Homo sapiens: one gene and its partner. The protein of the gene in region 1 purifies or fractionates together with the protein of each later gene. This does not show direct contact. Each region holds a gene or a part of one and is shown on either strand. Other genes may lie near its edges. The genes, in order: PSME3IP1 and PIP4K2A.

What was found.
Region 2: the proteins of PSME3IP1 (region 1) and PIP4K2A purify together in Homo sapiens (co-immunoprecipitation; one large-scale study listed by IntAct). This does not show direct contact.

What each region holds. Positions count from the first base shown.
Region 1 is NC_000016.10:57,172,540-57,176,039, forward strand, and holds part of PSME3IP1 (PSME3-interacting protein), read right to left. Parts: exon of another isoform or gene 3,003-3,500; coding exon of another isoform or gene 3,000-3,002; intron 2,482-2,999; exon of another isoform or gene 2,179-2,481; coding exon of another isoform or gene 2,176-2,178; intron 2,150-2,175; exon of another isoform or gene 2,081-2,149; intron 2,067-2,080; exon of another isoform or gene 1,926-2,066; coding exon of another isoform or gene 1,902-1,925; intron 1,752-1,901; exon of another isoform or gene 1,630-1,751; intron 1,447-1,629; exon of another isoform or gene 1,425-1,446; intron 1,331-1,424; coding exon of another isoform or gene 1,316-1,330; coding exon 1,189-1,315; intron 336-1,188; coding exon 237-335; intron 1-236. UniProt on the Homo sapiens protein: Promotes the association of the proteasome activator complex subunit PSME3 with the 20S proteasome and regulates its activity.
Region 2 is NC_000010.11:22,707,553-22,711,578, forward strand, and holds part of PIP4K2A (phosphatidylinositol 5-phosphate 4-kinase type-2 alpha), read right to left. Parts: intron 1-4,026. UniProt on the Homo sapiens protein: Catalyzes the phosphorylation of phosphatidylinositol 5-phosphate (PtdIns5P) on the fourth hydroxyl of the myo-inositol ring, to form phosphatidylinositol 4,5-bisphosphate (PtdIns(4,5)P2). Has both ATP- and GTP-dependent kinase activities.

The DNA of each region.
Region 1 (3,500 bases):
ATTTTTTCCCATTACTAAATATTACCATAGAATTAAAATGGGTGTTTTGAGCTCTAAACAAAAATATTCAATGTGGTCTAGAAGGCTGAAGGCTGTCTCTTTTCCACCAAATAAGCATCCGGAGACTCGAAAATCAAGACAATTCCACGGCTAGTTAGGAAAAGTGCTGCACAAGGCAAAAGTGCGTCAAAAGTACCCCACAGAGCCCCTTGAACTCTCTGTTTTCTGAAGCTTACTGAATTTGAACTGTTCCTCGTACTCCTGCTGCTTCCTGTCCTTCTGTTCCTGTAGCCTTTCATATAGAGATCGAGGGTCATAAACCTCCTCTGGACATTCTGAAAGGAAAAGGAGAGGGGAGAGAGGTGGACGGGGAGGAGATATACACTTCAGATTGTTTTCATATTATTTTGGAATCACAAAAGGTTTTAAAGACAAAGTCAAGTCTCTGCATGATCTGAGGGTGTGGATAACACAAAAATAGTACAAAGTCCAGTTTCCCTTTGGACCTCAGAGAGGGGCCACCAGTTCTCAAAGCCAACTATCAATGTCAATAGCGCCCATGGCCTGAGACAGTTAACTGATTGAGGGGCCAGCCCAAACCCTCCACAGCAGCAGTGTTCTCAGTTGTTCAGACCATGGATCCACCTGTATAGATGGAGGAGAGGAGCAGAATCTCTTGGAAGGAAGTGTGGTAGGCAGAAAAGAAGCAGGATGTGAGTATGCTGGCTCTGCTCCCAGCTGTGCAGGACCTTACATAGGTGACTTCGCCCCTGAGTCTCAGTTCCTCAACTCTAAAGTATGGACAATTGGCCAGGCATGGTGGCTCACACCTGTAATCCCAGCACTTTGGGAGGCCGAGGCAGGAGGATGGCTTGAGCTCAGGAGTTTGGAACCAGCCTGGCCAACAGATGAAACTCCATCTCTACCAAAAATACAAAAATTAGCCAGGCGTGGTGGCTGGTGCCTGTAATCCCAACTACTCGGAAGGCTAAGGCAGGAGAATCTCCTGAGCCTGGGAGGCAGAGGTTGCAGTGAGCCAAGATCGCGCCACTGCACTCCAGCCTGGGCAACAGAGTGAGACTCCGTCTCAAAAAAATAAATAAATAAAACCAAGTGAGGACAATTAATACCTACTCTGCAGGGTTGCTGTGTGGATTAAAGACCATTATACTGACTGTCACAGTATACCTTCTGGATCTTCAGGTTTTCGAACTTTCTCCCATTCTTCTTGCCTCCTTTTGCGCCGTTCATCTAGTTCTGCCTCAGACACAAACCTCTTTTTGATAATAAGGTTACCATCATCCCCTCCATCCATAATGAAACAACCAATCTACAAAACAAAAACAAAAACAAAAAAAATCATTTCAAGTGAGAACTGCAATTAAAATTCTAAAGAGAAACAAGGAGATTTAGCTCCATCTCACCCAGCAACAAACTAAAAATTATCTTCCAACTTTGAATTGAAAAAATTCTCGGCCGGGTGCGGTGGCTCATGCCTGTAATCCTGGCACTTTGGGAGGCCGAGGCGCATGGATCACGAGGTCAGGAGTTCAAGACCATCCTGACTGACATGGTGAAACCCCGTCTCTACTAAAAATACAAAAATTAGCCAGGCACGGTGGCACGCACCTGTAATCCCAGCTACTCAGGAGGCTGAGGCAGGAGAATCGCTTGAACCTGGGAGGCGGAGGTTGCAGTGAGCCAAGATCACACCGCTGCACCCCAGCTTGAGCGACAGGGCAAGATTCTGTCTCAAAAAAAAAAAAAACTCTCAAATAGTTTAATTTATAGGCCATTGATGAAAGCACATGAATACATTTTTCCTGACATATCAGAGAATTTTTATTAACATCGATGTTATCTACACAGTTGGCAAGAGGACCTGGGATAATTCTTATTACCTGGTGTTCCATAGTAAATCTCATATTGCAGCTATTTCTCTGTCCCTCTAATCTAGAAAAATTGGCCTCCTGAGCATCCCATCCTTTTCCCAGCTCTCATCCTCCTTTATTTCTGTAACATCTGACATTGTTTCTTCTTGAAATTCCTGTTTCTGAGACATTACACTATCTTGATTCACCTGCTCTTGCCTCCAAGTAGATTAAGATGGAGAATCTCAGCTATTGAAGACTTAGTGTTCAAGTCCAGTCTGTATAGCAGGGAAGGTGCACAAACCATGAATGGAGAAAGTGAGACTGGAAGAACAGATCTCCCAACTTCAGTTCCACGTACTTTCCTGAATACTAATCTGACTCTTCATTTATATCTCTTCTGACCTTCCTCCCTGTAAACCCCTTGTCTGTGCCATTTAAGATTTGAACTTCAATCCTTCTCTTTTCTCACTCCCACAATCACCTCAACCATTTTATGCATATTTTGACACAGAAGATTACCGAATCTGTTATTTCTACCTGAGCTTTTCTTCAAAGAGGAGAGAAGGAAATAAAGATAGCAGAGTGTATATTACTTATTACTCCTTTTTTTTTTTTTTTTGAGATGAAGTCTCGTTCTGTCACCCAAGCTGGAGTCCAGTGGTGCAATCTCAGCTCACTGCAACCTCCGCCTCCCAGGTTCAAGCGATTCTCCTGCCTCCGCCTCCTGACTAGCTGGGACTACAGGCGTGTGCCAACACGCCCAGCTAATTTTTGAATTTTTAGTAGAGATGGGGTTTCACTATGTTGGCCAGGCTTGTCTCGAACTCCTGAACTCGTGATCTGCCCGCCTAGGCCTCCCAAAGTGCTGGGATTACAGGGGTGAGCCACCGCACCTGGCCATATTACTCCTTTTAAACTAAACCTCTGTTTTTCTTTATTGGTTTCTTTCCTTTTGAGTAACTGTGGAATTAACCCCTACCCAGACATGTTATTCACAGCACTATGTGCTAACAAGGAGGCACATATTCAATCCAATGTCCATTCCAAGATAACCACTAACAACAAAAACAGTAAGTTTCCACGCTACCACAAAAATAAAGCAGCTAACAGTTAATGAGCTCTTACCATGTATTATATTCCTTTTATGGATATTATCTAATTTACATGATCATTGACCCTATGAGAAATATTATCTGTTTACAGATGAAGTTGAGGTCCAGAGGAGTTAGATTATTTGTCTAAGGTGATACAGGTGGTGAATGGTAGAGCTGAGAACCAAATCCAGGCCTGATATCAAAAATGCATACTCTTACCAACTTTACCATACTCCTCCCCAGAAAACACTAAATCTTAGTTGAAAACAAAGACATGTCGACTTCAGCTTTCTTCCTACTTCAAATTCCAGTGCTGAGAATATTCATGCAACATTTTTATTTAGTAAAGCTAGAAATGGAAGCTGAAAAAACAAACCCAAACGTTCAGAACAAGAGAATAGTCTCAGCCTGAATACTACTGTTGCTGAGGTTTAGTTTAATGTAACAATAAGAGCGAATTGTGAAAATTACTAGAAAGAAATGAAATCAACTGACAGACGCTGTTGCTCCCACCTAAAGCCCACAACCTGGA
Region 2 (4,026 bases), on another chromosome or scaffold:
GTCCATCCAAGAAGAACAGCTCTTAAGACTAAGAAAATAAAAGAACTCAAAGAAATGAATGATTCCTGAGCTTGGCCCAGGCAGCACAGCTCAGTGGTTAACGGTACCGTTGTGAATCCCAAGTACTAGGCACTGTGACCCAGGCGGGTAATCAATTCAGCCTATGCGTGTTCCCCCCCAAGAATTCTTCCTGGCTGCTGCGTGCTCTCCCCACTTTCTCACCCCACACTATCCCCATCTTATTCTTGCAAGGGTTCTTGATGGGGTTCCATGAACTCCCAAGTGGTCCATGGATAGAATTAAAAGGATCCTTGAACTTGCTAGGACATATCCTCTGTATTTTCATTTATTCCTTTAAAAGCCTCATTCTGAGGAGTCTATGGCCTTCACTGGACTGCCATAGGAGTTCCTAGTACAAAAAAGAAAAGAAATGAGGATAAAGGCAGACACAGGGAAATAAGCTAGGGGGGTTTAATATCAGTCTAGGAAAGAGGGAAACAAATCTGGTTAGGAGTGACAGAAGTGAGAATGGAAACGAAGAGACGGATTCAAGGAAACTCCCCAGGGATTCCTAACAAAATGGCATCTTTCACCTTCCTTCTACTTACCTTCCAAAAAAGAGGAATTGCCTCTACTTCCACTCATTCACTCCTTAAGTCTTTAAGCTTTCACAGCCACCCGCAATCAACCACAAGCACAGCCATGACTTTCAAGCACTTGGGAACATCTAATTGTGCCGACCTCTGTTTTCTCCTCCTGTTTCTTCTTCCTCTGTCCTTCCCTCAAAGCCAAGTGTCCCCAGTGTCCCTGCTCCTCCGGTGGAGATCTGACTTACCGATTCTGTACGGGCAGGTCTCAATGGTCTATCCCAGCCCTAGTGGCTCCCGAGCTCCAATCACACCTTTCCAGCATCCTACATGGTACTGTAACTGCAGGATCCACCCACCACCATCACCTGCAATTCCACATTCTTAAATCTAAATTGCTTGTGTCCCTTTCCAACCTACAATTTCTTCTCCCAAATTCTCTAATCTATCATGGGGCCACCATTCTTCTAAGGGCTCATCACATACAGTTGGGGCTGGGGGAGGAATCCTTAGTGGTAAAGTTCTTCCTTCTACTGCTATGTAGCCTGTGGACCTGCAGCATCAGTACCACCCGAGAGTATGATAAATGCACAGTCTCAGGCAGCACTCCCAACAGATCTGCTGAATTAGACACTGCATTTTAATTTTTATTGTTTCACATTTAGTGGGAGCCTCCATCTGTCACCCAAGCTACAGTACACTGTACAACCATGGCTCCCTGCAGCCTGGACCTCCTGGACTCAGATGATCCTCCCACCTCAGCCTCCTGAGTAGTTCAGGCTACAGGTGTGTGCCACCATACCCATCTATGTTTTTACATTTTTTGTAGAGACAGGGTCTTGCTATGCTGCCCAGGCTGGTCTCAAAATCTTGGCCTCAAGCAATCCTCCTGCCTCAGCCTCCCAATGCATGACTAGGATTACATGCATGAGCCACCTACCCAGCAGCAGAGCCTAATTTAGCAGACTTTTTTTTTTTTTTTAAAAGTCCCCGATTGATAAACACCTTAAATTTTGAGAAACAGGGATCTGGTTCTTTTAATATATCACCATCCAAACTGCATTTGAACTTTATTACTTTTAGGCATCATTTACTGAATCCTTATGATGTGCTAATTACAGTGCTAGGCCTTAAACACAGTATCTCATTTAACTCTCAACCCTGTGAAGTCATATCATTATCTCCATTTTAAGAATGTGAAAATTGAGGCTCAAGTGACTAAATCACCTGCTCAAAGAGCCCATCAGTTCCAAAGTTAGCATTTGAACCTCATCTGTCTAACCACAAACCTTTTTTGCCAAATTGCACCAATTCCCTTCAATTCCAAAATTTGTATTTCGAAGGCTATGCTGGCAGAATTAATTACTCTGGTTGCCTGTATTTTCTAATCAACTTAAGGCAGATTTTGGTGGTTTATTATAATTCTTGCCGGCAACCTATCTAAAGACACAGCAGATCAGGATACCCTGGAAATAGAAATCACTGACCTGACATGGGGCATCATTCTGAGTACTGAAGTTTAGTAACTGTAAGTACTAAGTAACACTAAGTACTAAGTATAAATACTTAGAGTTCACTCTAAAGTATCTGACAAATGGAGAGGAAAATGTATTCTGTTCTCTGGTTATAATCCCAAGTTTTAAGGAGTATAAAACGACTTCCCTAATAAACTTTCTGTATGTCTGCTTGGTATGTTTCTTTCCTCTGAAGATTAAAAAGAACAAAAAAATAGTTTGAGGAGACTAGTTCTTGAATGAATGGTAGCTGGGTTCCACTCAATAATTTCATCTAATGTCTAATTTTAATTTTAATGTAATTGCCTTATTATGTCCTATTCAGTCAAAGTCATTTCACAGTCACTCAAATCACTTTAAAACTTAGTTTCCTTATCTTCTTTCAGTGCCCAAATAAAAACCCATGAACCAAAAAAAAAAAAAAAAAAATTATGATGTATCCAATATGGTCTTTGTCTATTCCAAAAACCAGAGCTTGTGGAGAATATAATCAAAGCTACTGACGCTCCACCAAGGACACCATGAATTCTCCAATCCACACACAACACAGCACATGGTGCTCATCAGGCTGGCCCTCACAGATTCCCACGGTAAAGACCCACGGATGTCCAGAACCATCCAGCTCTATTACTCGGACAGAGACCTGCCTGAAACTGCCTGGCAGGCCCTTTCCCCTCTCTGGGGACTGTTCTTTCCCCAACGCCAACAGGCAAGCGCTGCCATGTTTTTATAACTGCTTAGTCCAAGGGACGGCCACAAATGACCAAGGCCAGACCAATCCCAAGTGGAATCCTTCCACGGTATTTTTATAACTGAATTAGAGACAGGAAACCCTTTTGGGGGAGCAGAAATGACAAAATGTGAAATACAGGAACCGTTCATTCCCTGCTCTGTGGAGGAACCAGCCAGCTATGAAGGAGAACTGAGCCAAAGGGTACAGAAAAGTCCCACGCACTCACACACCCACACACTCAAGCACCCAGCTCTTCACATGGTTCCATTACCAGCCTTTCCTTCTACTGTGATAGGCCCCCCAAACCCCTCAATACCTGACATTTTTGCCAAAGCTCATTTCAACTTCTACAGCTTTAAACCAAAAGCCTCTAACATCAATACTTAGCTACTTCTAAATGCTACATGTTTTAAACAAGTTTTATGTGCTTTAAGATTTTTCTATACAGATAATGTTTTCCTTTGGATATTTAAATAGGTTTTAAAATACTAATTTCTAAAAGGCTCACATTTCACTGTGGATAAAAATCTTTTAGAGTATCTATTTAAAACAAGTCTTGGCTCATATCATTCAACATCCTCCCCACACTATTAAAATATCATCTTAAGACGCTTACTGTTTGATCATTTTTAGTTTAATTCTAAATGTAACAAGACAAAACTGCCTTAAGTCTTTTCCTTTATGTATTCAGTTATATTCTCTGCTTAAAATACTTAAAAATTGGCACTGATCCATTCACTGATGGGTATTTTAAGTTACAAAGCAGTAACATATCAAATTAACCACACAATGGCAGGCTTACTCCCGACTATGACCATTGCCCAAATCAAGATTTTCATTACCACCTCAATGGACTTGAACATTTTCACCTTAATTGCAAGTTGTTATGTTTCAATCAAATCGACTTTGGCTTAATAGACTGCAATGCAGTTCAGCTACATTCAATATAACAAACCCTTAGTTCACAGTCTCTTAAAATCACCATAGATTTCCTTCCCCTGTAGTCAAGGTCTTGAAAATTCCCTGAATGTTGCTGCATTTGGAAGGTTATAATAGTAAGACAACTTTTATATAGTATTCTACAAATCCTAGTATAACACTGTGCACCTAGTAGACTGAAAAAACAGAATCTTGAGTTAGACTTGGAAATCATCCAAACAACCTCAGTTCACAGATGCAAACACTGATGCCA